Linked DNA regions of Homo sapiens. The protein of the gene in region 1 purifies or fractionates together with the protein of each later gene. This does not show direct contact. Each region holds a gene or a part of one and is shown in the gene's direction. Other genes may lie near its edges.

The links.
Region 2: the proteins of CAPN6 (region 1) and CEP162 purify together in Homo sapiens (affinity purification with mass spectrometry; 2 studies listed by BioGRID and IntAct, with this or other methods). This does not show direct contact.

The regions. Positions count from the first base shown.
Region 1 is NC_000023.11:111,246,484-111,250,312, reverse strand, and holds part of CAPN6 (calpain-6), read left to right. Parts: intron 1-1,255; coding exon 1,256-1,378; intron 1,379-1,541; coding exon 1,542-1,744; intron 1,745-2,320; coding exon 2,321-2,442; intron 2,443-2,808; coding exon 2,809-2,945; intron 2,946-3,553; coding exon 3,554-3,736; 3' UTR 3,737-3,829. UniProt on the Homo sapiens protein: Microtubule-stabilizing protein that may be involved in the regulation of microtubule dynamics and cytoskeletal organization. May act as a regulator of RAC1 activity through interaction with ARHGEF2 to control lamellipodial formation and cell mobility.
Region 2 is NC_000006.12:84,123,552-84,126,774, reverse strand, and holds the end of CEP162 (centrosomal protein of 162 kDa), read left to right. Parts: intron 1-5; exon of another isoform or gene 6-153; intron 154-262; coding exon 263-397; intron 398-1,498; coding exon 1,499-1,705; 3' UTR 1,706-2,525; downstream 2,526-3,223. UniProt on the Homo sapiens protein: Required to promote assembly of the transition zone in primary cilia. Acts by specifically recognizing and binding the axonemal microtubule.

The DNA.
Region 1 (3,829 bases):
ATCTAAAGGCTGAATCTATAATAACCTGGATGGTTTCATCTCAAAATGTGCTGATGAGCTAACTCATAGAAAACAAGAATTCTGACTATATTGCTGCCTCACTGCCCATGGGTGCGTCTTTTCTTTTCATGGATCTCATTGGTCAGGCATTTAGGAGAATATGGAGACTAGTGGGCTGATTCACCTAACTCATACTGCTCTTCCACCCTTCCCATCTTAATTGTTCCTAAAGAAATATCCTATCTCCCCCCACACACACCACCTCACCTCCATTTACAACTCTGGAAATGTTTCAAGTATTAGGCACATATACTAAGCTGGGAAAATGGCTTCACTCTATATGTATGTACAGGATTGAACTTAGGGGCCTTAGTTCAGAGTCTGTTTTTAAGTCCTCCCTCCCTCCCTCCCTCCCTCCCTTCTTTTCTTCCTACCTTCCTTCCTTCCCTCCCTCCTTCCTTCCTTCCTTCCTTCCTTCCTTCTTTCCTTCATTTTAGAGATGGGGTCTCACTTTGTTGCCCAGGCTGGAGTGCAGTGGCATGATCACAGTTCACTGCACCCTTGAATTCCTGGGCTCAAGGGATCCTTCTGCCTTAGCCTCCTGAGTAGCTGTTTTATGTTTCCTTCTAAAGGGAGAGAGGAATGGAGACAGAGACAGAGAGAAAAATCTGATGCCTTTTAGTTTTATCTCCTAATAGCACCGTGATTCCCCAGATGATGTTTGGAAAGTCTCTGACACAGGCTTGTAGCTTCCTTAAAGTGGAAGTAGCAAAACATCAATTCTCCAAGGAGCCCTTCCACAAGCTGTATGTCTGGCTGGCAAAAGGAGGCTAGCCCAGGGTGATGCTGTAGTGTCAGGTTGAGTCAAATAAATACCTTTCTGTCTTTATGGATTCCAAACTTTTTCTATATATGGCATTTAAATACAAAGGGATAATAATAACAATAATAATAATAATAATACAATAATTTACCAAGAACTTATTAGAACAAAGCATATCCTCTTTGGCATCAAAGGCTAAGAATAAGGTTGTCCTTCAACACATGCTGAATGACATAGAAAGAAACAAGTGTTAATGGTCTACGCTTAGCAAGTCAGTGAATTATCCAAGACCTTGTTGTCTGATAAATATGAAAGCCCAGAAAATAACTCAAGGCTCTGCTTCCCAATGACAAGCTTTATTCCCTGAAATTTAAGCTCGTTCATATGAAATGGGAATGCTAACTCACCTCTGTGGTGGTCTCTTTCCCTTAGTACATCTTCACTGTGCCTGAGGATGGGCACAAGGTCATTATGTCACTGCAGCAGAAGGACCTGCGCACTTACCGCCGAATGGGAAGACCTGACAATTACATCATTGGCTTTGAGCTCTTCAAGGTAAAAATGGGCATTTGGGGCAGAGAGAATGAAGGCAAACAGAGTAAAAATTAGGATAATTTAATGGTAGGGGAAGAATGGAAGGCCTAGGGATAAAAAAGACAGAGCATACAAAAACCATGATTTGAGTGGAATTGAATATTTTACCCTATTTCATTTCCAGGTGGAGATGAACCGCAAATTCCGCCTCCACCACCTCTACATCCAGGAGCGTGCTGGGACTTCCACCTATATTGACACCCGCACAGTGTTTCTGAGCAAGTACCTGAAGAAGGGCAACTATGTGCTTGTCCCAACCATGTTCCAGCATGGTCGCACCAGCGAGTTTCTCCTGAGAATCTTCTCTGAAGTGCCTGTCCAGCTCAGGTTCAGTTTCCTTCGCAAGCCCTCAAACCCCTGTTCTTTGCTTTACTTCCAATCCTAAACCCCTTCACCCGTCTCCCCTCTTCAGACATTCAATGGGACAACTTGTTTAAATCAGACTTGATTCACTGAAATCATGGTGGTAAAAATATTTCTCAAAGGGTGGTTGGGGGAAATTCCCCAGTGAAGGTCTGAACTTCAGAGCTCTGAGCTACCCTTAAAGAGGAACAGGCCTATAGTCTAAGTTCTTCCACATCAAATTTGTCTTCTGTTTTCTGGCTGATGGCCTCTTTTCTTAAGTAGGTAGCACTCCTCCCTGCTCTTCTATTATGTTCTGTGTGCTGGATCACCAAAGCCACCTTTTTGTCCCAGCCCTGCCTACTTTGATCTTTATCTCCTGGCCCTTAAAGAAAGGAGAAAGGAAAGCATGCTTAAAATATATATAAGACATATCTGAGGAGGAATGGGCTAAGTCACACAATGTCTCATGCTTTTCAGCAATGATGTCTGCTTTGGCGGGCTTATTTCATCAAAGGATATTTATCATATGATGACAATATTTTATTTTTGATGTTCTAGGGAACTGACTCTGGACATGCCCAAAATGTCCTGCTGGAACCTGGCTCGTGGCTACCCGAAAGTAGTTACTCAGATCACTGTTCACAGTGCTGAGGACCTGGAGAAGAAGTATGCCAATGAAAGTAAGAATGGCAGGAATGTCTGGGAAAGCAAAATTCAGTTGCATTTATAGCACATAAGTTAGAAAACATGATCACAAATGATTTTCTCCAGCGATATTTTGTCTAGAGAAGTTGGGAATGGATGGCAACCATGGCAGAGGATGGGATGTCAACTTCAAGCAAGGCCTACATTAGATTCATTTTCATATTCCTATATAAAATATGGAAAAGGAAAGGGAAGTGGGAATAAAAGTGTTGAATCTCAGTCATTCTGGTGCTCGAGTGCTATGCTGAAAGTCCCAGAATTGGCTTAGCGAGATACCTTCTTGTCTATCTAGAAAAGGAACTTTAATTGCTGTGTTAAAAACATATGTCACTTTGTTCCAGCTGTAAACCCATATTTGGTCATCAAATGTGGAAAGGAGGAAGTCCGTTCTCCTGTCCAGAAGAATACAGTTCATGCCATTTTTGACACCCAGGCCATTTTCTACAGAAGGACCACTGACATTCCTATTATAGTACAGGTAAGAGTGTGTACAGGGGTCGCCAGAAAGGCTCATACTTTGTACCAGATACTAGATGATCCCAAGTACCTTATATATGTTTAGGATGCAGAGCAAGAATTATCGTATTTTTTGGTTTGTTTTATACTCAAAAACTCTTCTCATCAAGCATGGACACTGACTTCCTTATTACCATCCATCCTAAATCTCCTCTCTTCCATTTATTTAATTGTGGGCAAAAGCCCACATGCTCACCAGTACACATGTTAACACACGTATCATAAAATCCCATGGAGGAAAGCTTATGCCAGTTCAGAGGACCCTCACATGGCTAGGTCAGGATGAATCACTGCAGTTTGGCAGTTTTTCTGACTTAATACTCCTGACCAGCAGCCTTTAGGTAACCATCCCACAGGTCAAGAACGACCCGGAGATTCTGTTTTCTGGCTTTTCATGTATATTCTTTGAGGTATCCTCCCCTCAACTGATGGGCTATCAGGAAAGGACAGAATAGTCTCTTGGTTTTAAAACAAATCTTTTGAAGCTCAGCATTAGATCTGGATGTCACTGGGCAAAGGCTAATCTCACTGAGGGCTGCTCATCTTCACTCCCTTCGTTTGTCTTTCCAGGTCTGGAACAGCCGAAAATTCTGTGATCAGTTCTTGGGGCAGGTTACTCTGGATGCTGACCCCAGCGACTGCCGTGATCTGAAGTCTCTGTACCTGCGTAAGAAGGGTGGTCCAACTGCCAAAGTCAAGCAAGGCCACATCAGCTTCAAGGTTATTTCCAGCGATGATCTCACTGAGCTCTAAATCTGCAATCCCAGAGAATCCTGACAAAGCGTGCCACCCTTTTATTTTCCGTCAGGTGCCAGGTCTTAGTTAAGATTCACAATCTTTAGAAAG
Region 2 (3,223 bases), on another chromosome or scaffold:
TTCAGCTCCTTTACCAGACTGCCATACTTGGGAGGTAGAAGATGGTCCATTCATCCGGAACCTCTTAGAATGTGAGGTCAACTCAGAGTTAGGAGGAACCTTTACTTTCTGGATATAGAGAATGAAAGCTATTAATTACTCTAACAATCCAAGGTGCCTCTTACTTATATAGAGAAATTTTATACAAATATTCTGATTTTCAAGATTACCTGTTAAATTCTTGTGATTATAGTTTTTCATTTGCTTCATATGTCAATTTTAGATTACAAAACTCTTAGAAGAATTGAGAGAAGCCAAAGAAAACCATACACCAGAGATGAAACATTTCGTGGGCTTAGAAAAGAAAATTAAGCAGATGGAAATGAGACATGCACAAAGAGAACAGGAACTTCAACAGGTAAAGTAAATCACATTTACATATTTATATAGGTCTTTACTTTTAAGTGCCTTTAATTTGCTATAGTTTTGTCATCCCTAGCAAAAATTACCACTTAAAGTGTTTCCAGTGTATTTTGATCTTGTTAAAAATTTAATAAATTTATAACTTTTACCAGAAAATGAGACTTTATATCTCAAGTGCTTGAAGATTGGTATCCTTATATCTGGAAAAAAAGCAAAAACTTGTATCATGTTCTTAATTATTGATGGATTCCTAAAAACTTACACATCTTACCCTGGGAACAAGGCATGGTGTTCCATATTCAAGTCATTTCAGCAAATGTTTATAAGAAATAAATTGTTTTAATATGATTATTTAAAATATATAGCTAGCACTAGTAATATTACTATACTTAATTATAAACAGATAAATTAATAGAAGTTAAAAATAGCAGATGTAAGGGCATGATGTGTTTTTAGGCACTTGCCTTGGTGCTGAAATTTAACTTGGTTTGAACAGTGTATTAGTCTGCTTGGGCTGACATAACAAAATATCATAAATTGGGTGGCTAAACAGGAAAAATTTATCTTCTCACAGTTCTGTAGGCCAGAAGTCCCAGATTGAGGTTTTGGTCAGTTAGGTTTCTGGTGAGGGCTCTCTTTCCAGCTTGCAGATAGCCACCTTTTTTCTCATTCTAACATGATCTTTCCTCAGTACCATGTGTGCAGAGGAGAGGAAGAGGGGCGAGAGATCACTTTGGTGTCTCTTCTGGTGATGATCTCTTCGGTGTCTCTAGTGGTGGAAACACTGGTTCTTATCAAATCAAGTCCCCACCCTTATGATCTCATTTAACATTCATTATTTCCTTACTCCACATACAGTCACATTAAGGGTTAGGAAATTCAACATATGAATTTGAGGGGGACACAAACATTTAGTCCCTAACACAGTTGGGATGTATATACTCCTTGAAGACAGAAAATGTTGCATCCACGCAGAGCATTATGATTTACCTGAGTTCCCCAAAGAAACCCCAGGTTTGCCTACTTTAAGATTGTTAAATGTTCCTCACCCACCACTATGAACTATAACAGCAATGTGGAATTTTTGTATTTGCAGATAATACAGCAAACACACCAAGTAGTAGAAACTGAGCAAAACAAAGAAGTTGAAAAATGGAAAAGACTGGCACAGTTAAAGAATCGTGAGCTGGAGAAGTTCCGCACAGAACTAGACTCAATATTAGATGTTCTCCGAGAGCTGCACCGGCAAGGAGTGGTTGTGCCAGTTGCTTTTGCAGATGAAATGAATGCACCAGAGTATTAATAGAAATTCAGATTTCATAATGACCTTATTAAAAGGCCTGAAGATGGATGGGATTGTGCCACTGTCAGGACAGCTTATGAAAAACAAGTGTTCCAATATGTTTCCAGAAAGCAAACAACCAAAGCAACATTTCAAAATAAATTGCCTTTAACCAATAAGAAAAAAAACATATAATGGTGTATTTTACTAAAAATCATTAACCAGTCTCATTTTAAGTGATTTATGGACAGTTTCCTTTATAGCAGAGAAGGGCTCACTTGTATGCTAGAAATAGAAAGAAAAGAAAATTGAACATACTCCGCCACATTTTTATTGATAATGTGAGGTTTTTAAAATTTTTATTTTAGATCCAGGGGGTACATGTGCTTGTTGTAACATGGGTGTATTGAATAATGGTGGGAATTGGGCTTCTAGTGTACCCATCATCCAAATATTAAACACTGTACCCAACAGGTAATTTTTCAACGCTTACTGCCGCTCACACTCTTTCCCCTATTGGAGTCCCCAGTGTCTGTTATCTCCATCTTTATGTCTCTGTGTACCCATTGTTTAGCTCCTACTTTTAAGTGAGAATATATGCAATATTTTATTTTTTATGTCTGATTTAGTTCACATAGGATAATGGCCTCCAGCTCTATCCATGTTGCTGCAAATGACATGATTTCATTCTTTTTTATAGTTGCATAATACTCCATTTATATATCTCTCTCTATATATATCTCACGTTTTCTTTATCCAGTCAATTGTTGGTAGATACTTAGGTTGGTTCCATGAATTTGCTATTGTAAATATTGCTGCAATAAACATACATGTACAGATATCTTTTTTATATAATGATTTCTGTTCCTTTGGGTAGATTCCCAGTAATGAGATTGCTGGGTTGAATGGTAGTTCTATTTTTAGTTCTTTGAGAAATCTCTATACTGCTTTCCATAGAGGCTGAATTAATTTACATTCCCACCAAGAGAGTATTCATGTTCCCTTTTCTACACATTGACACCATCATCTGTTGTTTGACAACTTTTTAATAATAACCATTGTGACTGGTATAAGATGGTATCTCAGTGTGGTTTTTGTACTTCTGTAATGATTAGTGACGTTGACCACTTTTTCACGTGTTTGTTGGTCAGTTGTATTTCTGTTGACAAATGTCTGTTCATGTTTTTCTCCCAGTTTGTAACGGGATTGTTTGGGGTTTTTCTTATTGTTTTAGTTCCTTGTACCTGATGAATATTAGTCCTATCTCAGAGAAATAACTTGCATATATTTTCCATTATGTAGGTTATCTGTTTATTTAGTTGATTATTTTGCTGTGCAGAAGCCTTTAATTTTAATTCAGTTCCATTTATCTATTTTTGGTTTTGTTGCATTTGCTTTTAGGGTCTTCATTGTGAATTTTTTGCTGAGGCCAACATTCTGAAGAGTTTTTCCTAGGTTTTCTTCTAGCATTTTAATACTTTTAAGTCTTACATTTAGGTCTTTAATCCATCTTGCATTAATTTTTGTATATGATGAGAG